Homo sapiens: one gene and its partner. The protein of the gene in region 2 purifies or fractionates together with the protein of the main gene of each other region. This does not show direct contact. Each region holds a gene or a part of one and is shown on either strand. Other genes may lie near its edges.

The links.
Region 1: the proteins of DCX (region 2) and NMNAT3 purify together in Homo sapiens (affinity purification with mass spectrometry; 3 studies listed by BioGRID and IntAct, with this or other methods). This does not show direct contact.

What each region holds. Positions count from the first base shown.
Region 1 is NC_000003.12:139,623,182-139,635,461, forward strand, and holds part of NMNAT3 (nicotinamide/nicotinic acid mononucleotide adenylyltransferase 3), read right to left. Parts: intron 11,467-12,280; 5' UTR 11,430-11,466; intron 4,584-11,429; 5' UTR 4,544-4,583; coding exon 4,435-4,543; intron 1-4,434. UniProt on the Homo sapiens protein: Catalyzes the formation of NAD(+) from nicotinamide mononucleotide (NMN) and ATP. Can also use the deamidated form; nicotinic acid mononucleotide (NaMN) as substrate with the same efficiency. Can use triazofurin monophosphate (TrMP) as substrate.
Region 2 is NC_000023.11:111,392,221-111,404,500, reverse strand, and holds part of DCX (neuronal migration protein doublecortin), read left to right. Parts: intron 1-3,170; coding exon 3,171-3,511; intron 3,512-12,280. UniProt on the Homo sapiens protein: Microtubule-associated protein required for initial steps of neuronal dispersion and cortex lamination during cerebral cortex development. May act by competing with the putative neuronal protein kinase DCLK1 in binding to a target protein.

The DNA of each region.
Region 1 (12,280 bases), on a different chromosome or scaffold from region 2:
CATATCCTTATCCTGTAAGTTTTATTTTTAAATGTTTACTTTGTAAATTTTGTTAGAAATTAAGATACAAACACACAGATTAGCCAAGGCCTACACATGATCAGGATCATCAATATCACCATCTTCTACTTCCACATCTTGTCCCACTAGAAGGTCTGCAGGGGCAGAAACATGCATGGAGCTGTCATCTATGATAACAATGCCTTCTTCTGGAATTCTTTCTGAAGGAGCTGCCTGAGGCTCTTTTACAGTTAACTTTTTTTTTAAATAAACAGAAGAAATAGACTCTAAAATAAGGATAAAAGTATAGTATAGTAAATACATAAATCAGTAACTTAGTCATTTATTACCATTATCAATTATTATGTACTGTATATAATAGTATATGCTAGACTTAATTGGTCGATTGATTGATTGATTGAGACAGAGTCTCACTCTGTCGCCCAGGCTGGAGTGCAGTAGCTCAATCTCAGCTCACTGCAACCTCTGCCTCCCAGGTTCAAGCAATTCCCTGCCTGAGCCTCCCAAGTAGCTGGGATTACAGGTGCGTGCCACCAGGCCTGGCTAATTTTTGTATTTTTAGTAGAGATGGGATTTCACCATCTTGGCCAGGCTGGTCTTGAACTCTTGACCTCCTGATCTGCCTGCATTGGCCTCCCAAAGTGCTGGACAGGTGTGAACCACCATGCCCGGCCTATGCTAGACTTTTTAGACTTTTATATGATTAGTTATGCAGTAGGTTTGTTTACACCAGCGTCACCACAAACACAAGTAATGCCTTGAGCCACGATGCTATAACGTCACTGGTCAATAGGAATTTTTCAACTCCATTACAATCTTATCAGACCACTGTCATACATATGGTCTGTTATTTGCTAAAATGTCATAGTGTGGCAAATTATTGTATTTGTTTTCTTCTGCTTATTTTGTTTTTCATCTGTTCATTTGTTTATTAAAGTGGAAGTTGAAATCATTGATTTGAGACCTTTTTTTCCTAATATAATATTTCGTGCTATAAAACTCTTCTTAAGTACTATTTCAGTGGCATCCTAAATTTTTTATATATTGTTTTCACTTTCATTGAGTTCAAAATGTTTTCTAATTTCCATTTTGATTTCTTCTGTGACCCATGAGTTTTTCAAAGTATGTTATTTTATTTCCATATTTGGGGATCTTTCGGAGATCTTTCTGTTATTGATTTCTAATGTAATTCCACTGTGGTCAGAGAATACACTTTGTATTACTTCAGTTCTTTTACATTTATTGAGACTTTTTTTTTTTTTTGAGACAGAGTCTCGCTGCACTCCCCAGGCTGGAGTGCAGTGGCACGATCTCGGCTCACTGCAACCTCTGCCTCTCGGATTCAAGCCGATTATCCTGCCTCAGCCTTCTGAGTAGCTGGGATTACAGGTGTGTGCCACCACACCTGGCTGATTTTTGTATTCTTAGTAGAGACGGGGTTTCACCATGTTGGCCAGGCTGGTCTCAAACTCCTGACCTCAGGTGATCCACCCACCTTGGCCTCCCAAAGTGTTGGGATTACGGGCATGAGCCACCGCGCCATGCGGAGACTTCTTTTATGGTTCAGAATATGGCTTATTTTGGTAAATGTTCTGTGTGCCCTTGGGAAGGATGTGTATTCTGTGATGTAGGATGCAGTGGTCTATAAATGTCAATTAGGTCAAATTGTTTAATAGTGTTGTTCAAGTCTTCTATTAATTTTCTGTGTGCTTATTCTATTAATTACTGAGAAGAGCATTAAAATAGCTGACTCTAAATGTGGGTTTGTCTATTTCTCCTTGCAATTCTATAAGTTTTTGCTTCTTATGTATTTTGAAGTTATATTACTAAGTGCAAAAAGCGTATTACTTCTGCTTAAAGAATTAACCCCTTTGTGATTATGAAATGACCTTATTTATCCCACGTAATATTCATTCCTCTGAAATCTACTTTCTCTGTATTACTATAGCCACTTCAGCTTTCTTTTAATTAGTGTTAGCATAGGACAGTTTTCTGTTCTCTTACTTTTAACCTATTTGGGTTACTATGGTTAAAGTATGCTTCTTATTTATAGTTGGGTCTTGCTTATTTTATTGAATCTGGCAGTCTGCCTCTTTGCAGAAGTTGTTAGGCTACTTATATTTAATGTGATTATTGATATAGTTAGGTTTAAATCTCTTATGTTGTTTTCTATTTGTCTCATCTGTTTTTTGTTCCCTGTTTCTTCTTTTTCTTCTTTTGAATTAACTGAGTATATTCCAATTCTATTTTACTTCCTCTGTATGCTTATTAACTATAACTGCTTCATTTTAGCAGTTGCATTAGAGTTTAAAACATACCTTTAACTTCTTACAGTCTATCTTTAAGTGATGTTATACCACTTTATGTATACTTCCCTTTTACCCCCTCAGCTTTATTCTAGTGTTATCATATATTTTACTTCTACATAGGTTATAAATCCCACAATGTATTGTTATTTTTATTTAAACTGTTAATTACCTTTTAAAGAAAATCAATAAGAAATCTTATATAATTGCCCTATGTTGTTACCATTTCCAGTGCTCTGTATTCCTGTGTTGGTCCATGCTTCTGTTTGGTATTATTTTCCTTCTGCCTGAAGAATTTAGCATTTTTTGTAGTGCAGGTTTGCTGGTGGTGAGTTCTTTCAGCTTTTGAATATCTGAAAATGCCTTTACTTTGCTTTCGTTTTTGAAAGATATTTTTGCCAGATATGGAATGGATATAGAATTCTAGGTCGACAGTATTTTCTTTCAGTTCTCTAACAATGCTATTACACTAAATTCTCTTTTGGTAAATTCAGTAACAAGATGTCTGCTGTCATCTTTATTTTTGTTCTGTGGTTGCTTTTGACTATTACTGCTTTTGAGAGATTTGATTATTATATTTTTCAGTGTTGTTTTCTTAACGTTTCTTGTGTTTGGAGTTTGTTCAGATAGTTGGATCTGTGGGTTTTCATCAAATTTGGAGAAATTTCAGTTATTATTTCTTCAAATATTTTTTCTAGTTCTTCCTTTGTTTTCCCCTTCTGGGATTCCAATTCCAAGTATATTAAGCTGCTTCAAGTTTTCCCGTATCTCATTGTTATTCTTTCTTTTTTAAAATTTTTTCTTCCTGTATTTTTAGATAGTTCCTATTATTACATCTTCAAGTTCACTAATCTTTTCTTCTGTAATGTCTAATCTGTTTTTTATTCTTTATAGTGTATTTTTCATCTAACAGGTTGTAGTATTTAATTCTAGATGTTTGACTTGGGTCCTTTTATATTGTCCATATCTCTACTTAACTTGAATATATAGCACATAATTATAATAATTGTTTTCAAGTCTTTGTCTGCTAATTCTAATATCTGCATCAAATCTGGTTTGGTTTCCATTGGTTCATTTTTCTCTTTGTTCTGAGTATGGGTAGAGACTTTAAATCTTTTGTCACAGAACACCAAATTGTCCTCAAAATTTATCCTATTACTACCAGTACAGTCCTACTGGTAGTAATAGGATATCACTTTTACTTTTTCAATAAAAATATGTTTCTAAAATAAAGACATTTCCTTTAAAATGAACTAATACTTGTGCATTATTTCTTTGAAGAAATAATTTCCATGTTACTCAAATACTTTTTGCTATGTTAAAAGTAAATAGGGATGGATTCTGGTATAAAAACAATGTCCTTAAAGGCAAACTTTTTACAAACAATATAGAAACACAAAATACATATATGAATACATAATACATTCATAAATATACAAGTAAATAATTTCATATATACTCGATAGCAACAGATACATTATTTATATTCTTTAGAAACAATCATGCAGATTACAAATGTCACTTTACTCCTTTAATAATGAAATAGAAAGTCAAGCAGGTGAAATATCCTCAGATTATATATTTCCAGCTGATTAAATATTCCTGTCAAAGTCATGCCATCTGTATTGGAAATGCCCTATATACAAGATTATTAATTTGTAATAATCTAAGATCTATTCTTTAAAATGAGAAAATGTCAAAATGCCCATTATCAAGCATTTTCTTACCCTCTGAAGAGTATCAGGAGCTTTCTAAGGCACATGCTACCTATTCATCTGGCTGTGTAGGTAGATGTTGGGAGTACCAGGAAGGATGCCCTGATTGTGGCACAGGTTCTGTAGAGGGCCTGTTGTCGTTCATTGCCAATGTGAGGTGGGCAGGGAGGGGAGACCTTGAGATGTGTTCAGCTCTATGGCAAGGGGTATGACTTGTACATATGTCACAAGACTATAAGCATCAACCCTTTGAATATGATGAAAAAAATATGCCACTAGTTATGCTGTGAATAAATTGAGCTGTTTTAATAATAGTGATGCCAGCAGCCAGAAAAGCCCCATGAAGCCTAACCCACCAGTTCTTCTGTTGGACTCAGGGCCCCCTGACTGACCTGTTTGGTGTAGGTGATCTCTGGCCACCTCAAACATGCGCAGGTGCATGTTGGTGATGGGGTTAAAGGAGCCACAGGCCAGGAGCACCACAGGTATTCGGCTCTTCATCTTGTCAGGCACATCCACACCTGTTGCAGTGGCCACCCTGCTTTTATGGGGACAAAAGCTCATGTCAGGGAGTTAGCACTGAGACAATTATCCAGATCAGTCTCTCTAAACCACACACAGACCATTACTTCTCACTTGTAAGATGACTGAGGAGGCCATTAAAACAACGTTTAAGGAGGGTTGGCCATGGGCCATGAAGTATGCCAAGTGCTATGCCAAGGCGTATCCTTCTCTTGCCAAGTCCTTTTTAACGACCCTGAGTGGTTACTCATACAGCTCAGGGACCTTAGAAGCTACTGGGCCAGGACTGGAACCAAGGCAGCCTGATCCCAGAACCCATGTTCTATTCTGAACCTCTATATCCTCCTTGAGCTCTGACAGATCACCACGGGGTCAGAAGGAGGGCTAGAAGACTCCCGTAGTGCCATCTCTGGTAGTCCTAATAGATCTCACAAGGTCCTAGAGTAGATTAGCACTTTTAAAACACTTTTTATTTTGAAACAATTTCAGACTTATTGGAAAAAAGTTACAAAATTTATACAAAATGTTTTATACTCTTTATCCAGATTCCCCAATGTTAACATTTTACCACACTTGCTTTATCACTCTCTTTCCACACACATACATACCTGTTTATAAATATTTTTTCTGAAATGTTTGAGAGTAAGTCATAGACATAAAATCTCTTTACTTCTAAATACTTCAGTATGTGTTTTCTCAGAATGAATACACTTTGTTACATAACTGCAGAACAATGATTAAAATCAGGAAACCAACATTGTTACTGGACTATTATCTAATGTGCAGACTGTATTCTGATCTCACCTATTGTCCTTTATCTGGGGCCCAAGCATTTTGAGAGGGTGCAGCCCACCCTCTGGTCTCACCCTGTTGAGGTTAAAGGTGAGAAGGAAACAGCCCAGGCTCCAGGGCAGGCTGGCAGACACGGCTCTCTTGCCTCTGAGATGCTGCCTCCTCGAGGTGGGACTTGGTTGACCCCTAGTTCTACCTCTCACTGGCTGTGAGGCCTAGGGCAAATCACAGACCCTCTCTGAGCCTCAGGTTTCTAACCTGCAAGATGGGGATAATGTTACTTACTCTTACAAGGTTATAGTGAGGATAGTTACATATGGAAAGTGCCTGATACGTAAGAAGCATTTAATAAATAATCACTGTGGCTGTGGTGATGATGATGACAATGGTGAGAAAGGTGCTGCTACTGCTGACCCTAATGGAGCAGGAGGAGAAAGGAGATGGTGGTGTGTCTGTGGTAGGCAGTGTTTAAGATGGCTCCCAATGATCCTTTTAGTATTCACTGGTAATCTCATCCCTTAAGTATAGGCTGAAACTTGCTTACAACAAACAGAATACAGCAGTAGTGGTTACCACTTCTGAGATAAGGTTACCAAAGGCCCCTGGCTTCCCTCTTGCTCACCTCTTTTGCTTTCTTACTTGCTCACCCTGATGCAGCCAGCAGGCAGGTTGTGAGCTGCCCCGTGGAGATGCCCATGGGCCCAGGAAGTGAGAGAGACCTCTGGTGGCCAACAGCCAGTGAGGAACTGGATCTGCCAAAAACTATGTGCATGAGTGTGGGTGTGATCTTTCCCCAGTCAAGTTTTCAGATGTGATTGCAGCCCTGCGAACACTGACTGAAGCTTTATAAGATAGGCTTTATAAGTTAAATTATATCTGAATTCACGACCCACAGAAACTGTGAGATAATAAATAAAAATAATAAATAAATGTGTTATCTTAAGCTGCTACATTTTGATGTAATTGGTTATGCAGTAATAGATAATACAGAAACCAATGGGAGGAATGCATTTATTGCCTTTATTATTCATCTTGCTGTGATGGTCTTAGCTGTAATCCTGCAGTTCTGGGGGCAACATGTAGAGTGCTCAGTCACAGGAACCTGGGACCCTGCTTATATCAAAGGAAACTGTTTCAATTTGGCCCATGTTATCTCCTTCTCCAGGCTTTCATCCAGTTTCCTACTTTATATTCTAGCAACAATGAACTACCTATTAGGACTTCTTTGTGAGATCTTCATGGCTTCCTGCTTCAACCTTCTGTACAGGCTATTTTGGTTTCCTCCAACCAGAAAACCCCCCGGCACATCCCAATATGTTAAGATCCAATTCATATGATCACATTATTTATTACTTCATCACTATTTATCAATTACCTGCTAGGTACCTATATCAGTTAGGGATATATTAGCTGCAAATACCAGAAGCCTAACCTCAGTGGTCTAAACAAAGAGAGGTTCATTTGTTTCTAACATGACAAAAAGTCTGGAAGTAGGCACCTAATGACATGAAATCATGGGCTCAACAATGACCTACAATTCTTTCAGTTTCTGTCTCATGGTCACATCATAACCTCAATAAAGGCAAGAAGGAGGAGCAAGAAGCTGTACTAGATTGGCTATTCCTCTTAATCAAGAACACAAGAGCTTTTTTAGAACCTCCTGTAGATTTTGCTTCTGTCTCATTGGCCAGAACTAGGTTACATGGCCACTGTAGCTACAACAGAGGCCAGAAAAGGCATCTATTTAGCTTGACAGCCTCTCCAGTGAGAACAGTAAGGGAAAGGGGATTGGAAACTGGATTAACTAATTCACTGTGGCTGCCACAGAGTTGGGGATACAAGTGTCTGGGACTTGGGAGGGTGGAAGGCTGCTGAGATGGCTTCTTTGACATCTAGCTTAGGTTAACTCATCTCTGACTTACCTTTAATAAACCACAAGCGACATTTTATTGAAAAAGCCTGCTTATGTGTCTTTCCTATCCACTGGACAGTAAACCCTTTAGGAAGGGAAGTGGTGTTTTCTCCTTCTTGGGATTTCAGCTCGAAGCACAGAGCCTGGCCCAGAGTAGGGATCAGTGAAGACTGAAACAGGGCACTGGCAGGCTGGAGGGCATGTACTCTGAGCTACAGTGTGAAGATGAAAAGCTCTCAGCCTAGGCGGGCCGTGGTCTCTCCATACTTCCTTTGAGGCAGCAGGAATACCCCCAACTGTGTGGGAAGAAAGCAGTCAACAAGCTGCTGCTAGCTTTTTCCCAGGGAGGTTGGATGGTTTAATGAGATATTTGCAAAGTGTGCCAAGCTATTCACAAGAGCAGCCTCGTGATGACTGTATCTGAAAAGGTGGCTGTTTTTTTTTTACAACTGTTATGAAGTCTTTCAAAATCCTGTTTCATTTTGACAAAATATACATTGTTAGCACCATTAAAATATGTAACAGCATCTCAGGTAACCTGGGGCTCTCATCCATTTTTCCAAAAGTTCCCAGAAACTATAAATTAGAACAATTTGTTTGAATGGTGGCATCAACAGCAATGAAGTGTGATGCTGAGAAGGAGAATAAATGACCTTTAATAAGTGCCTCTCTTTCTTTTTTTGCTGTGGGCATACTGAGCCACACTGTTCTAGTGGTGACTGTGCTATGTCTGGGCCATATCGCAGGCTGAAGGACACAGGAGTGCACATTCCCAGGATCAGTAACAGGGTCAGTGCACCTGTACCATGTGTACACTCAAATTTGCTTCAACTAAGTACCCTCCCAAGCCAAACCCAGCGAAATACAGTGATAGGGCTAAAATGGAATCACTCCAGGGATCCACCAGGACAATAAACTGGCTCTAATTTGAGTGCAAATCTCATCAGACACAAGGCAAGATGCATGCTATAAAAGTGTCCCATCTGCCCTTATCATCTAATAATATCTAGTGAGACGGAGCAAGTGAGGGAGACTTCTGCTATTGGGGAAGGCTTCTCATCAATAAGCATTTAATGGAGGCCAGAGAGTGATAATTGCAGCTGAAGGATTTAACAAGTTGAGAATGTGGTGTACAGGCTTGTTGGAATTTATCATTAAACTGGAGACAAGGCAAACAGGTTCTACCTTTGGCTCCCGCCCCCTCCCCAGCTTACTGCCTCCCACTCCATAGTCATCTAGACAGCATTTCATCCCACTCCTCAAGCACAACATGCTGCTTCTGCAAAAGCAGTCATGACCACCTGAAACGCCATCCTGATGATCTGCCTTCAAGGTTTTCTCCCTGGAATATTTACCTCCCCCCTACTGCCCTCACCACCATGCTAACTCTGTACTTGTTACATATTTTATCACCTTTTTGTTTCTTCACCAGAGAACTGTCATTTTTTTAATGCATGTTGCTCTTCTCCAAGTGGAAGATAATATCTTAGAGGTTTTTTATTTTTTATTTGTTTTTTTAAGAGACAGGGTCCCACTTTGTTGTCCAGTTTGGAGTGCAGTGGCATAATCATAGCTCACTGCAGCCTCAGACTCCTGGGCTCAAGTGATTAGAGAGTGGTTTTTAAATTCATCTTGGTCCTTTCAACTCCTAGCACTGTGCCTGGCACCAATAGGTACTCAGGAAATGTGTGTGGAAAGAACAACAGAGTCAGTGTCTATCCCTGACCAAGTATTTTTGTCAGATGTCTACCTCCTCTCTTTGGTTCTGTCCCAGTCAATGGAATGAGCCTTCCAGAGATATAAAGTGAACTTTCTGGCTCCCTGAAGGCACACAAGATCCCTCCCCAAAGCCCCACTTCACCCGACTCAATCTGAAACTTAAAAAAGACATCCTTGCCTATTGGGCCCTCTTTACCACCATGATCCTGTCAACAGGGATATGCTGGCCTCCTGCACATTGACACCAAGGTCATCCCTCTGCCCTACAGAACTGGAGGTTGATGGCTGTCCATTTGCCAAGACAGTCCAGACAATTCCTTCCAGATTTTACTGCCTAGACATTGCTCACTGCACTGGTTTTCAGAGTCCGTCCAGTTTCTCTACAACAGCCTGGTCTCTGGCACTGCCCTGACTGCCATCTACTCAGTGGACAACTGCTTATTAAGCATCTACTAGTGGCCAGGCCCTCTACTGGACAGTAGGATGCAATAGGAGGCAATGCAGATGCAGCCCTCACCCTCAAAGAGCTTCCAGTCATCTATGGGAAGGACAATTCAATAGGCAATAACCCCCAGGGTAAGGGATCAGGGCTCAGGGCTTAACACCTCACTGCAAGAGGCTGAATAATTGGCTCCTGAAAATGACCGTGTCCTAATCCTTGGAACCTGTGAATATGTTATATTACATGGCAAAAGGGACTTTACAGATGTGATTACATAAAGAATCTTGAAATGAGGAGGGTAGCCTGGATTACTCAGTTTTATCATGAAGGCCCCCATAAAGAGGGCAGCAACGGGGCTAAACAGAGAAAGAAGATGTGTGAAAGAAGCAGTCGTCAGAGAAGAGAGAGGTGCTAGGAAGGGGCCATGAACCAAGCAATGCAAACGGCCCCTAGCTGCTGGAGAAGGCGAGGAAATGACTGTCCCCAGGACCTCTAGAAGGAACGCGGACCCCTTCATTTTAAACTTCTGACCTACAAAACTTGAAGGGAATACATTTGTGTTTTTGTTTGATTTTTTTTTTTTTTTTGAGATAGCGTTTTGCTCTTGTTGCCCAGGCTGGAGTGCAATGGCACGATCTCAACTCACCGCAGCCTCTGCCTCCCAGGTTCAAGTGATTCTCCTGCCTCTTCCTCCTGAGTAACTGGGATTACAGGCACGTCCCACTGTGCCCTGCTAATTTTGTATTTTTAGTAGAGACGGGGTTTCTCCATGTTGGTCAGGCTGGTCTCAAACTCCCAACCTCAGGTGATCTGCCTGCCTCAGCCTCCCAAAGTGCTGGGATTACAGGCGTGAGCCACTGTGCCCAGCCAAATTTGTGTTGTTTTAAGCCACACATTAGTTTCCTATGGCTGCAGTGATTTGTTACAGCAGCCATAGGAAGTTAAAACACCCATCTTTTTAGCGGCAGGCTGTCAGAAGGGACCTTCCAGCTAAAGCAAGAATGGAGAGGGAATTGAGATGCTGGGGAAGATAGTGAATACTGTGTCAGGCACAAGGCACAGCGCTGCGAAGGCCTAGACACAGCAGCTGAAGGTGGGAGGTGAGCTGAAAGATGTCAGTATGGCTCACGTGTAGGCAGGAGCTGATGTGTGAGTGGCTCAAGATGAAGCTGCAGAGAGTGGAAGGATCACGAGGGACCCTGGGTGCCTATGGAGTTTAGATTTTATCCTATGGGCAAGGAGGAAGCCTCTGAACGATTTTAAACAGGGATGTGACTTGCTCAGTCTGTGTTTCAGAAAGAGCACTCAAGTGCATCCGCAAGTTTCAGGGACAGTGGGTACATCAGAAAGTCTCAGGACGGCCCCAGCTGCCCTCAGGTCTTTCTGGCTGGAGAAGGTCAGACGGCCTCCATCTTCCTGGAATATGGCCTCTTCCGCCTGCTCACATCTCACTTGGCTCACCACGTAATGTGATGCTGGCCAATACTCCATGTGTATTAAGTTCTAACCTAGTGTGCACCCCTCAGCCCATTTGTCACAGGCCGTCGCGGAGGCACAGTAAGGAAGGCGACCCGGGAAGGTTAAGTGCCGTCACTGCAGATGTAACGTGCAAATGCTCATCGCTTGGGAGGCAGTCAATTTACCTTTCCCTGCGGTGAGCATTTGTAACGGGCCCAGGCCCGGGAAAGTGGCTGAAAACATCCCTGTTTATTATAGACATAAAGCAGATGGCTTCAGGCAGAATGGAAATGGATTCTACAAACATCTTTTATTACACAGACCTCTTGACCAGACTCCTCATCTTAAAGAAAACACAAGTCGTGGTTTGTATGTGGGGCTGACGACCACATTTTTCAGGACTCGGTGAAATCATTTCCATCTGTGTGAGCGTGTCGACTTCTCTAGGGCAATCAACCTTCATGCGATCTCCAGTACTTTTTCTTTTTAACCCGCTGTTGCTACGGGCACACAATGCTGCTAAAAACAAAAGCAAAGCATACCTTCCTTGTCGGTGTAAGGATCCTCTGCCAGCCACCCCTTGGAGGAAACAAACATGTCAATTAAGCATTCATCCTAATTATGAGACTCCCAGGAAAGCAGGCAGCCCACTCTTTAGTTTCGAGAAATTTCAAAAGATTTGAAGGAGCACAAGGCGTGGAATGAGATCTCTTGCAATGCCATACTCATAATTTGGGACTAGTTTCAATTGCCACAATAAAGTACGTCTGAGTAACTACTACTGGGTTTATTGAGTAATAGGCTAGGCACTGTGCTAAAAACTTCACACACATCAATGCTAATTCTTTCAACACACCTGGAAGGGAAGGGTTTGTGCTTGCTTTCTGGTAAAGAGTCCAATCAACCTCCCTAAGGCTCAGTGAGCCACATAGAAAGTGGAGATAATTATATCTACCTCTTAGAACTTTCATGAGGGTTATTGGAGGTGACCTGTCTAGCACAGTACCTGGCCCATAGAGGGTTCTCTAGAAATATTAGCTCCTTTGTCTTTCATTGTGTTTAAAACATAATTTGTCACTCCCTATACCAGCTTCCAGGAGGTTCTTTACCTTGTTTGAAAAAGACCTCCCATTTTTCTAGTTACCTAAGACCTGGCAGCCCTTGGACACACATTCGGCATCCTTCTACCTATTAGGCAGCTTGCTCAGGCCAGCTCAGCCTGGGAGATGTCACCACTGAAGGGTGCTGATGAGGAAGGTCAAGCCCAAGTACCAATGCTGTGTAGTCTTTTGTCTAGCTCCAAGAAAACAACCCTCCTCTAAGCATCTCTTGTCCCTGGAATTCAGAGTCAATATTGAAAAACACATGAACAGACAGTCTAATATCATTCTGG
Region 2 (12,280 bases):
AGTCATCACTCTTGACGACGATAAATATCCTGCTCTCAGCGGGCCTCTGCAGAGGCAGCAGCAGCTTTACTGGGTGTTAGCATAAATCTCCTACATTTGGCATTTGCCACAACTGGAAGCCTCCTTCCAACCAGCAGGAAATCTTATCCTTGAATCACAGGCCCCCAGCAGTGCTCATGTCATATCATAATCACAGCTCAGTTCCTAGATGGTTGCCCTTGATACTTTCTCTTTTTTTTCCTCTTCAGCTTCTATTCCTCTTTTTAGTCTCTTTCTCTCAGCAATTTTTTCCTCTTTTCCTCTTTGCTCTTTCCTTCTTGTTCTCGCTTCTATTCCGTAAGATTAGGGGCTTAATAATAACAGAAATTTATCAAGTGCTTACTATGTTCCAGGCTCTGGGATCAGCATTTTATTTTATTTTATTTTATTTTATTTTATTTTATTTTATTTTAAGACGGAATCTCACTCTCTCCGTCACCCAGGGTAGAGTGCAGTGGTGCGATCTCAGCTCACTGCACCCTCTGCCTCCCAGGTTCAAGCGATTCTCCTTCCTCAGCCTCCCTAGTAGCTGGGATTATAGGCATGTGCCACCACGCCCAGCTAATTTTTGTATTTTTAGTAGAGATGGGGTTTCACCATGTTGTCCAGGCTGCTCTTGAACTTCTGATCTCAAGCGATCCACCTGCCTCAGCCTCCCAAAGTGTCAGGATGACAGGCATGAGCCGTCGCACCTGGCCATGGGTTGAACACTTTTTATCCATCATCTGATTTGTGCCCCACAACAACCCCACAAGATAGGTATTCTTATTATCACCCTTGCTTTGCAAAGAAGAAACTGAAGCCAAGGGAGGTTAGAGTGCACAACTAGGAAGTGTTGGGGACCCCATCCTGACTGACATCACATCAGCTGCGCTTTTTCCATTACTCCATATTCAGCCCAACGAGAGAGTGGAGTGACTAAAATGTACCACTGGAAGGTGCTCAACATAGATTTGGCTGAGGCTGGGCCCTCTGGAAAGTTCTTGGGTGCTATATGATACTATAGCTGTCAGTCATCATGTTCATTTTCATCTGGAGACGGTTAATCATACTCATACTCCAGAGGCTTAAGAGGTTTAAGAGATGGGAGCAAAAAAGTCCAAAGTCCTAATAGGGCTACACAGCTGACTCTCCAGAGGAGACTGGATGAGTGAAATCATAAATATATAGCTTCACACATTTCCACACCACCATTTGTCTGACAGTTTTAAAGTACATGACAAGTTATGGAAAACATCTGACTCAAAGGCAGTGACCTCCTGCAAGGTGCCAGTGAATCTGGTGAACTGCTAAGTCAAGAGACCATTTCTAGGGTTATGGGGGTTATTGGCTGTGAATATATGGAGACACTAAAAGGGCCCCTTCCTTCATCCTTTTAAGTCAAAAATTAAAGACCCCAGCCTATAATTACTTGGGTTGGGTTGAATTAACCAGCAAGGGAGTCAAAGAAATCAGAGCTTCTCTTGGCTGAGGTATTGACCATCTCATCCTGGGTGTCCATGTATGCACCAAGTGGGTAAGGGTGCCTATCCTCACTTAAAACCATCCCTTTGTCCCCCTGTCAAGATAGAACTCTGGGACTGAGGGCAGCTTTGGAAGTCACTTTGCTTATGTTGGATGCCACTTACCCTCCCCCTCCGCACACACACACACACACACACACACACACACACACACACCACGCACACACACACACACATACACACACACATAAATGTCCTCAAAGGTACACTAGAGATTTTGACTGAAACTTCTCTTAGCATTACTGAGAAATTTATTCATTAACATGTCTTAAAGGATTTGGTGCTATGGCAAAGCAATAAATATTTGCAAAGGGAGTGAATTATCAACCTGGTGTTTCTGAATGCAGTTCTCCTGCTGAGACCAAAGGAGAGCCATCAGACTATAATTGTGTTTAATGCTTTCTGTGCACTGGCTAGGGTTTATTTATTTATTTAGGGTTATTACCGATGACTTAAGCCTGATTAAATCACACTGTTTCTGCAGCTCAACCTCTCAATGAACTTCTAGATACCTTGAGGCTAATGTGTTTTACTCAACGAATTCAACCTTTTCCAGTATTCTCTTCCCCAGGCTGAGCCTATCTCTCTTCCTATTTTCTTCAGCTCATAGTCCCAGGTGTCCAGTCCCCTCCTCTTGCCTCTGATCCCTGCATTTCTTTTGCGATATTAGTCATTTCCTCTAGCCCAAGGTAAATGTGAAAATTACACTAGATCCTTCCAATCCATAAATCAGGCTGTATAATGTATTCTCACTTCTTTACCTCATTACTTGTGGCAGCCAAGGGTGAGCACTGGTGAAGATGACCCTGAATACACAGATCTTATGTGCATCCTTTGAGAGGATGGAAAGATGAAGGGTGAGTGGTAGAAACATGAGAGTATTTTTCAAGCAAAAGCTAAGGTGTTTATATGTACTGGTTGTTATTTAGACAGTTTCTCTACCTAGTGTAGCATAAGGAGTAGAGGACACACTTATACACACATATAAACATTCAACATATGCACACACATTTCACATTTCAATATTCCATACTTGGCCATATACTCTGTGCAAAGGATGACCTGGTTTCTTATCAAGTATGTATGTATGCCTGATATACAAGGTTACTTGGTTCATTTTAACTTGGCATAAAAATGTTTTAACTTTGAAAGTTTTCCTTGGTTCATAATATCACAAAGGGATGGGACTTTGAGTCCAAAAATAGGACAGGGATTTTAAGAAATAGAAATGTTAAAAATTCTCCAGTAATGCCCCTGAAAGCTAAACATCCTAGAAACTAACATAAATGTTTAAATTCCAGAAAAAACCATATCAAGCTTGGAACTCCACTTGTTATATTAAATTTAGATATGCTCTTTGTCCTTAGAACCCTTAGCTTTACAGAGTTCTTCAACTAGGTGTGTCATTATATTGAAGGATGTTTTGAGAATTACTCTTGAATTTGGATGAGCCAAGTTTTTAGCCCAATTAGGAATTGCACCTAAGGTTGGTTAGTATCACCATTTATTGAAAAGTTCTACTCCAGTGTCAGTGTGTATTAGTTTGGTTAGAATAATCCATATATCTGCTATTAAACTAATCACCTAATCACTTATTTCTTGCCTTAGGGGAAAGCTATGTCTGTTCCTCAGACAACTTCTTTAAAAAGGTGGAGTACACCAAGAATGTCAATCCCAACTGGTCTGTCAACGTAAAAACATCTGCCAATATGAAAGCCCCCCAGTCCTTGGCTAGCAGCAACAGTGCACAGGCCAGGGAGAACAAGGACTTTGTGCGCCCCAAGCTGGTTACCATCATCCGCAGTGGGGTGAAGCCTCGGAAGGCTGTGCGTGTGCTTCTGAACAAGAAGACAGCCCACTCTTTTGAGCAAGTCCTCACTGATATCACAGAAGCCATCAAACTGGAGACCGGGGTTGTCAAAAAACTCTACACTCTGGATGGAAAACAGGTAGGTACTTTTTCAAAGTACTTTTCCCGTTTTTTCTAAATTCTTAGATGATCATGTTATACCTAAAATATCATTTCTTGTTGACGGACTCTTCCTCCACATCTCATCATCACAACCTGATATTATAGGTTTCATTTGGAGAAAAGGTATTTTTAGCAGGCAAAGCAATGAATCAGGAATCTGAGGCTTTGAAATTCAATCTGCTTCTGATTTACCATGCAGAAAGGTCACTTAGCCTCAGCTTCCTTATCTGCTATGAAAGATGTGTTAGAACCTAGGTTCTATGAATTCTTATGAATATGAATTTAGCTATTATATGATGCAACCTTCATTGTTCAATACATGTGACTGAAAATGATATTTGCCCATTCATTACTTTTTAGATACCCTCACATTGATGCTCAGCATCTATTTTGATAAAAGGAAGTTGAAGTGACCTTCATATGCTCTGAAAGAAGTCAGATACGGGGAAAGCACTGAAGCCTCTGGCTCGTTGTCTTTGCCTCACACTAAACCATATTTATTCTCTTTCTCTTTTCCATATGACATAGCTGTCTTAATTTGGTTCCACTGATGGTTTGTGTGAGAAAGGGACTATTTCAGGATCCTAAAATTAGCCCAAGAAAGATGCTGCCATCTGTTCCCCCTCCAAATCAGGTTCTTCATGTCATTGGTTATACTACTAAAGTGCCACCTATATTAATATCTGGGAAAGAATGCAGCCAGGCGTCTCCATCAGACAGATGCACCATTCTCTTAAGCATAGGGAGCTGTAAATATACAACAAAAATGTTCCAAGGGAATTGGAACAGTGGCTGGTTCTGTTGGCTCTAAAGAGAATTCTGGTCTCCCATCAGAAAAGACAAGTGTGGATTAGTATCAGTCCATATATTCTACCTCTTAAAATGCCTTTGGTGTTTAAACAACTATATAGAAAAGGTATTCCTAAAAGGCGGATTCACTATATATCAAAGTTACTGATGAGTGTTCAAATGCAGACCTGTGCCTCCTCCTATAATTTCTGATAGTAATGTGTGCTCCAAGATTTTAAGTTTCAGGGAAAACTCACCCAGGTACTGTGTACTTTGCAATTTTGAGAAATATTTGGCTTTGTTTCCCATCATTTTGCGATCTGAGAGCTACCTGGACACATTGGTTATACCTGACTTCTGTTTGTTGTACTGAAGCAATGGGTTTGTCTGTGATGTTGGGAAAATCTCCAATTCCCAAGCATTTCTCTAAGAGTGTCTATCTTCTAAGCACCATGTATGTAATAAACAGGAGCTGTCTAAGTATAGGCCTGATTGCCAAAGCCTCATCTCAGAGAAATAGGACATAGAAAGTTTAGAATCATTGGATCACAGAGTTGAGAATGACTTTAGAAGCCATGACATTTAATCTTCCACCTAAGGCATGGATATCCTCTACAATCACTCTATAAGACTATAAGACAGCCTATTTCACTGTTCAACAGCTGTGATTTTTAGAGTTTCTTTATATTAGGCATAAATCTGATTCCCTGTGCCTTCAGCCTTCTGAAGTAATATAGGAATATGCAAATCAAAAACATAAGACTGGGATTAAGAAGATTTGGACTTTAGTCTTGATATTGTCACTTAACCACTTAACTGTCCTGAACCTCACACTCCTTCTCTGTACAAAAGGACTGATCACACCTGCCCTGAGCATGCTCACAGGACTCTTATGAGGATTAAATCAAATAATGGATATGAAAGCACTCTGTAAATTGACACATGGATGTATATATATATATATGCATATAATTCATCATTAAATGAGATTTATGGCAATTTTCATATATTAATAAATGTTAGCTCTCTTTCTCCTACTTTATTTATTTATTTATTTACTTTTGGAGTCAGAGTCTCACTCTGTCACCCAGGCTGGAGTGCAGTGGTGTGAATTTGGCTCACTGCAACCTCTGCCTCCTGAGTTCAAGCAATTCTCCTGCCTCAGCCTCCCAAGTAGCTGGGACTACAGACGCACGCTGCAATACCCGGCTAATTTTTTTGTATTTTAGTAGAAACGGGTTTTCACTGTGTTGCCCGGGATGGTCTTGAACTCCTGAGCTAGGGCAATCCGCCCACCTTGGCCTTCCAAAGTGCTAGGATTATAGGCATGAGCCACCATGCCTAGCCTCTTCCCCCTACTTTATCTCTATCATTCTTATTATAAATTTCCAACATTTGTGAATATATACCATGCCTTGGCATTCTGCTTTTGTTCCAAATAATATATAAAGGGACACCTCCATCTCCTAGGGAAGCAAGCTCCAGTCCAGTGATGCATAGGGTTTTGTCCTACAGCAGGCCATGCAGAGTGGCAAGCTCTCTCAAACTCCTTTAAACATCAGTTCCCTTTCTTTGGGGGACATATTACAAAATACCAGCATATGATATGACATTCATATAGAGAAATAGAGTGGTGCCCAGTGGATCTGAACCATGCCCTTTCAGGCATCTGTACCTCTGTATATACATTCCCTTTCTTTAAAATGTCTTCCTCTGCCCACCCTGACCCCTGGAGGTCATCTTATAAGACCTGGTTCAAATATCACTTTATCTTTGAAAATTTCTGTCTCTGCTAAGGAGGGTAAAAGCAATCCAAACCTTTTTTTTTTTTTAATTAATGCTAAGCTCCTGGTATATTATGGATGCTCTATAAATGTTTTTTGATTGAATGAACTGACATAAACAGATTCTCAGATGGCCCAGGTAGATGTTTTGAGGACCCATCTTTCAATTCCCCAGACATTATCCTTAGGTCTTTCAGAAGAGATAGGGGGCCTCCAAAGGAGTGCATATTCCACCAGGTGGCTTCTATCTGGTGGTTTACTTGGAAGTCACTGAGGGCAGACATTTAAAGCAACATTTCCCTAAATACATTCTAAGGAGAAATGTCTCCATGTCCCCACCCCAAAAAGCTCTCCAAAGAGAATTCTGTGGGCAAATAAGGTTTGCCTTATTTGCAGTAAAATGCTGCAAATTGTGTGCCATTCTTAGAGATTCCAGTGCTCACTGGCACATTGAATGCTCTGAGAAGTTCTACAGCAAGGAAATCCATCCCAATCCTACTTAACCACAAACATTTTTAATGAAATATACACACACACATACTCACACATACATATATGTATATGTATGTATATATACACACACACATATATGTAGATATACACACACACATATATGTAGATATACACACACACACATGCACAGAGTGCACTAGAAAATGTTGTTTACATAAAACACTGATAATTAAGAACTAACTACCGTAACTTTAATGGTAATATTGGTATGCACAGGGTGACCACAAATTAAACGTTGTTTTGTTACAGCAAAGACATTAAATAAAATTTGGGGGTACATGGACAAACCTACTAATTACAAAATAGATGCTGGGTATAGTGAAAGTTGGTGCCAAATTCAAAATTTTGGAGCTCAGCTCATTTCCCAGGTCTGGTGATGACAGCACTAAAGTTAACACCTGTCAATCACTTTGATTATTAGTGGGTATTCGTACTGCTTGCGAATATAATCTTTTTTGTGGAGGCTGAAGTCACATGTATGGCAATAGCTTGACTTGCTTGGATGAGATTCCAATGCATGTTTTTGGCTATACGTGACACAAGGCACTTATTTGTAAAGAACAAAGTATGGTCAAGACTATTTGTTATGGAATGATTTATTCATGAAATCAAGGCCATCGCTTGATTTCAGTGTTCACTATAACTGGATTCCAAATCGACCAAACCAGGTGGTTTTCCCTCTTCATATAAATAATGATCAGCTAAAAGAGCCCAGTTGGTTATTGCAAATTTATTGTTGCTTCTGTAATTGTGTGTATCATTTGACTGATTGGCTCACACTGATTGACAAGCAATCTGCAGACATGGCTCATTTCTTTCTCTCTGTTTTTATTTTGTTTGAATGTGTCTTTTAGAGCCCTTGATCTTTCTAGGGCTTATGTTTGATGTTATAGAAGTTTGGTTTCCTGACCTCTTGCCTCTGAGATATTTGGGGTCTGTGTAGACAGGAAAGCCAACCACCACTAGTAGGAAGACACCCCAATTGATTCCTCACCTCAATAAGAAGTTATTAATGATATAAGAAGTAGTTGGTAGGGCTCTGGCTACTCCCAGGGATTAAAATGGACTTCTAGGAGGTCAAAGAGGACATGATAGAGGATTGGATGGTGATGCATATTAGTTCACTTGCAGGTGAAAATTGTTCTTTTGATTCCTTGGCAGCTGGAGTGGTTGTGGAGTGTTGACAAAATTATCCAATTATTAATTTCCATAACTAAAGTACACATTGACTTTCATGCATAAAAGTGATGGATACATAAAAACTGGGACCCAAATTTCTGGTTCACATGATAGTAGTAGTTTAATAGATACATGTTCTGGCCTTAAAATTAATTGCAGAGCTTTAATAATAGACTTCCAGCTTTTTGGCATCATACACAGTGGTGCAGCTGGTCTTCACAACATCCATTTTCATGCTACACTGATTGACATCTCTAGATTCAGTTTTGTCCACACCCAGAATCTGTGCAAGTGAAGATTCATTATTGCCTCAATATACATGCCTAAGACATAAGTATGGCCTTTAGTGCTTGTTCTAGCTTTGTTAGGCCAATTTTCAATTGGAAGGATTTATTTTATGTTTTTGTCTGTACCTTTATAGCACCGACTACTTGGATCTGGGATTACAGGTCTCAGAATAACAGAGGAGAGGTTTAAGCCGATTCCAAGATTATCCATAGCCTTGGAAACTAGTACAGGGGTTTTAAGGAAATGGTTGATGCATAATACACAGATGAGAGCATGAGGGATGTTTCAATTGCTGCTTAGTATTCTAGGAAAGACTTGCCCTTTCCACGTTGCCATACAAAAGAACTGGGTGCTGTAAGCACAAAGGCAATTGCAGGAAACACAGCAAGACAGATTGGATTTAACCTTGGAAATGTTGAATGCACTTACCAAGGTAGGTGTGTTTTTCCTTTGCCTACATAGCCAGTTTTTCTCTCCCCTGTTATCTCTGCTTTCCCAAGTAATATCTGATCTTATTTATACTCCCTGGCCTCCGGCTCTCTCAGAGCCAACCTCTCTCTTCTCCTAGTGTTATGACCCTGTCAGTCAACATTGGGCTCATTAGAAAAGGCCACATGGGCATAAATTATGCCTCAAGAGGGAGGTCATTTATCATTGGCCTTCACTTGAGAAGATCAAGGCTGGAAAGTTCATGTTTTTATTACCAAAATTCTCCTTCTCCAACCTTTCAGAGGTTCCTAGAGAAAGGCTTTGGGAGGATTGGCTTGAGCATGAAGTGAAATAGAACAAAGGTGAAAAGCCAGGCTGGGCTCTGTGAAAGGAGACAGTTTGCAAACTACCATGTCATATGTGGTGGTAGATTTCACACTTTAAAAGAGTGGCCAAACATCAAATATACTGCCCTTCTGGAAAGAAAAGACTAAGTGTAGCCTGGTGATCAGTTATTTCTTCAGTAATTTATCCTCTTAGAGTTTTATTGTTGTTGAGATGCTCCTGGCTCTGAGCAGTGACAGAGGTGTGACTTGGCCAATTCAATCAAAAGCTTTGGCATAGAATTCCAGTCTCTTGTGCTGACTAGTCTGTCACTGTCTAGCATTCAGCAAGTGGAAAGAGCCCTAGGCTGGGATTCAGAGGCCTGAGTTTTAGTCTTCACTCTGTTCTTCCCTAGCTATGTAACGTGGAGCCAATCACGTCTCTTTTTGGGCCTTAATTTTTTAAGGAGCCTTAGTATATGACCTGTAAGAGTCCTTCTAGTTCCACAATAACAGAGTATCCACCTCATAGTGTTGGTTCTGTCGAGACATGTTTTCACTCTTCTGAATGTACTCTACCTCTCTATGCTCCTAAGGATTGCCAATGTGATGTCGTACTTACTTTGGTGGATACATTGCTTTCCAGGATGGCCTCTAAAAGGTATTTGCATAATTCTTATATTCAGATCTTTCTTGCTGCCTGCAATGACATCACCAAAGAATATTTTCAAACTTGTAATTTTCGTTTGACCCCCTTTTCTTTACACTGTGGATGGTATAAGGAGCAGAAGGCAGAGGACTCACAAAACAAAGCAAGGCAAAAGCCAGCCTGCTAAAATTGTGGCAAGTGTTTGACAGTGCCATTATTAAGCTATTTATATCACAGTGGTGCTATTTTCAGTGCTAGGGAAGGATTATTACTAATGGGGGTGGTTAGCACTGGTGCTAAATGCCTTGCTATTTCTTGAGTAGACTGAAGAGATTCATCAAGTGGGGATTGATCTATCCAGGGATGCAGGCTGTTCCATTTAAAACTGTTGAAGCAATGGTCTTTTTGTTCTTAGTTCTTTATTTTCATCTGTTTCATTATTGTCATTCCCTCAAAGTGGGAGAAAAAGCATTGTCTCCAAAAACAGTTTTTAAAAACAGCTTTATTGAAATATAATCCCCACATTATATATTTCACTCATCTTATGTATAAAATTCAACAGCTTTTAGTATATTCACAGAGGTCTGCATCCATCACCACAATCAATTTTAAAATACTTTGATTATCCCAAAAAGAAACGCTGTACCCTTTAGACATTGCCCTCTAGTTCTCCGATTCCACTTCCCCATCCCTAAACAATCACTTATCTGCTTTTTGCTCTATGGATTGTCTTATTCATGACATTTAATAATAATGGAATCATGTGGCTTTTTGCACCTGGCCTGCCTGACCTAGCATAATGTTTTCAAGGTTCATCCATGTTGTAGCATATATTGGTACTTCATTTCTTTTATGTGTGAATAACATTCTATTGTATGGATTTACCACACTGTATTTAGTCATTTATCTATTAATGGACATTTGGGTTGTTTCTATCTTTTGGCTATTGTGATAATGCTACTATGAACCTTCATGTACAGATTTTTATGTAGATACATGTCTTCATTTATCTCGGGTAAATATCTCAAAATGGCATTGCTGGGCTGTATAGTGTGTTTAAAATTTTATGAAACTGTCAAATGGTTTTCCAAAGTGGCTGCACCATTTTCCATCCTTATTCGTATTGTATGAGAGTTCCAGTTTCTTCACATCCTCACCAACACTTGTTATCTTTTTTTTTTTATTAGCTCCATCCTAGTGGGTGTGAAGTGGTATCTGATTGTGGTTTTTCTTGATTTGTTTGCATTTCCCTAGTGATTAATGATTAATGATATCACACATATTTTCACATGCTTATTGGACAATTGTATATCTTCTTTGGAAAAATGTCTGTTCAGATCATTTTCCCATTCTTTAATTGAGTTATTGGGCTTCTTATTAATGAGTTGTAAGAGTTCTCTATATATTCTAGATACAAGTCCTTTGTCACATATGTGATTTGCAAGAATTTTCTGCTAGTCTGTAGCATGTCTTCATTTTCTTAATGGTTTTCTTAATTTTTCAAGAGAAAAAAAGCTTTTATTTTGATGAAGTCTGATTTATTAATTTTTCTTCTATGCATTATACCTTGGGGTCATATCTAAGAAATCTTTACCTAACCCAACATCTCAAAAATTTTCTCCCATGTGTTCTTTTAGAAGTTTTATATTTTTAGCTCTTAGATTTAAATCTCTGATCCATTTTGTGTTAATTTTTGTGTACAGGATAAGAGTCAAGGTTCTTTTGGGGGAGGGGCACATAGATATCTGATTTTTCTAGCACTATTTGTTGAAAAGAAAAGATAAGACAGTTTTCTTAATTTAAATTAAATATGAACAGTGGTTCATATAGCCGAGTCCTCTGAAGGTTTTTAGAATTTCTAAGAACTGTGGGTGTGAACTAATGTAACACAGGAGCTTCTCCTATGCAGATGTTGTGGAACAGTACTCTACTCTACAATACTCTACAATACAAGTACTCTACAATACTCTAAGGCTGTATCAGTAAGGCTGGCTTAGTCTTATTTTGTAGGGAAAAAAGAGGTCTTGATAGGAGAAGCTAAAATGGGCTATTGTTCCTTGACAGTGCCCTGCCATGTTCTAGACTCCTAGAGTTCCCACCCAGACCTATCTGAACTTCCCTGTCAAATATCCTATACACTTCTGGTGATGCTAAACAGGATTGGGGGAGGGGAGTAAGGAGATGTCCAAAATTGTTGGGGTTATTTTCTTTTGTAACATCTTGAGATATAATTCACATATCACATATTTTGCTTATTCAAAGTGTACAGTTCAATGATTTTAATATGCTCACAGATATGTGTGACCATCACCAAAGTCAATTTTAGAATATTTTTATTACCTCTCCTACCCTCTATCCCCCACAGCCCTAAGCAACCACTAATCTACTTCATAGTTCTATAGATTTGCCTTTTCTGAACATTTTGTATAAATGAATCATATTTTATGATTCATGTATATATGCTAAGTGACTAGCTTCTTTCACTTAGCATAATATTTTCAAGGGTCATCTATGTTCTGTCATGTATCTATCTGTACTTTGTTCTTTTTTATGGCTGAATAGTACTCCATTGTATGGATATACTACATTTTGTTTATCCATTCATTTGTTGATGAACATTTGGGTTGCTCCATCTTTTGCCTATTAATAATGCTATTATAAACATTTGGGCATGATTTAGGTATAGACATATATTTTCATTTCTCTTGAATATATATCTAGTAATAGAATTGCTGGGTGTTGAGGTTTCTTGATGTTCTGTCCCCCAACCACCAAACTCATGTTTCTAAAAT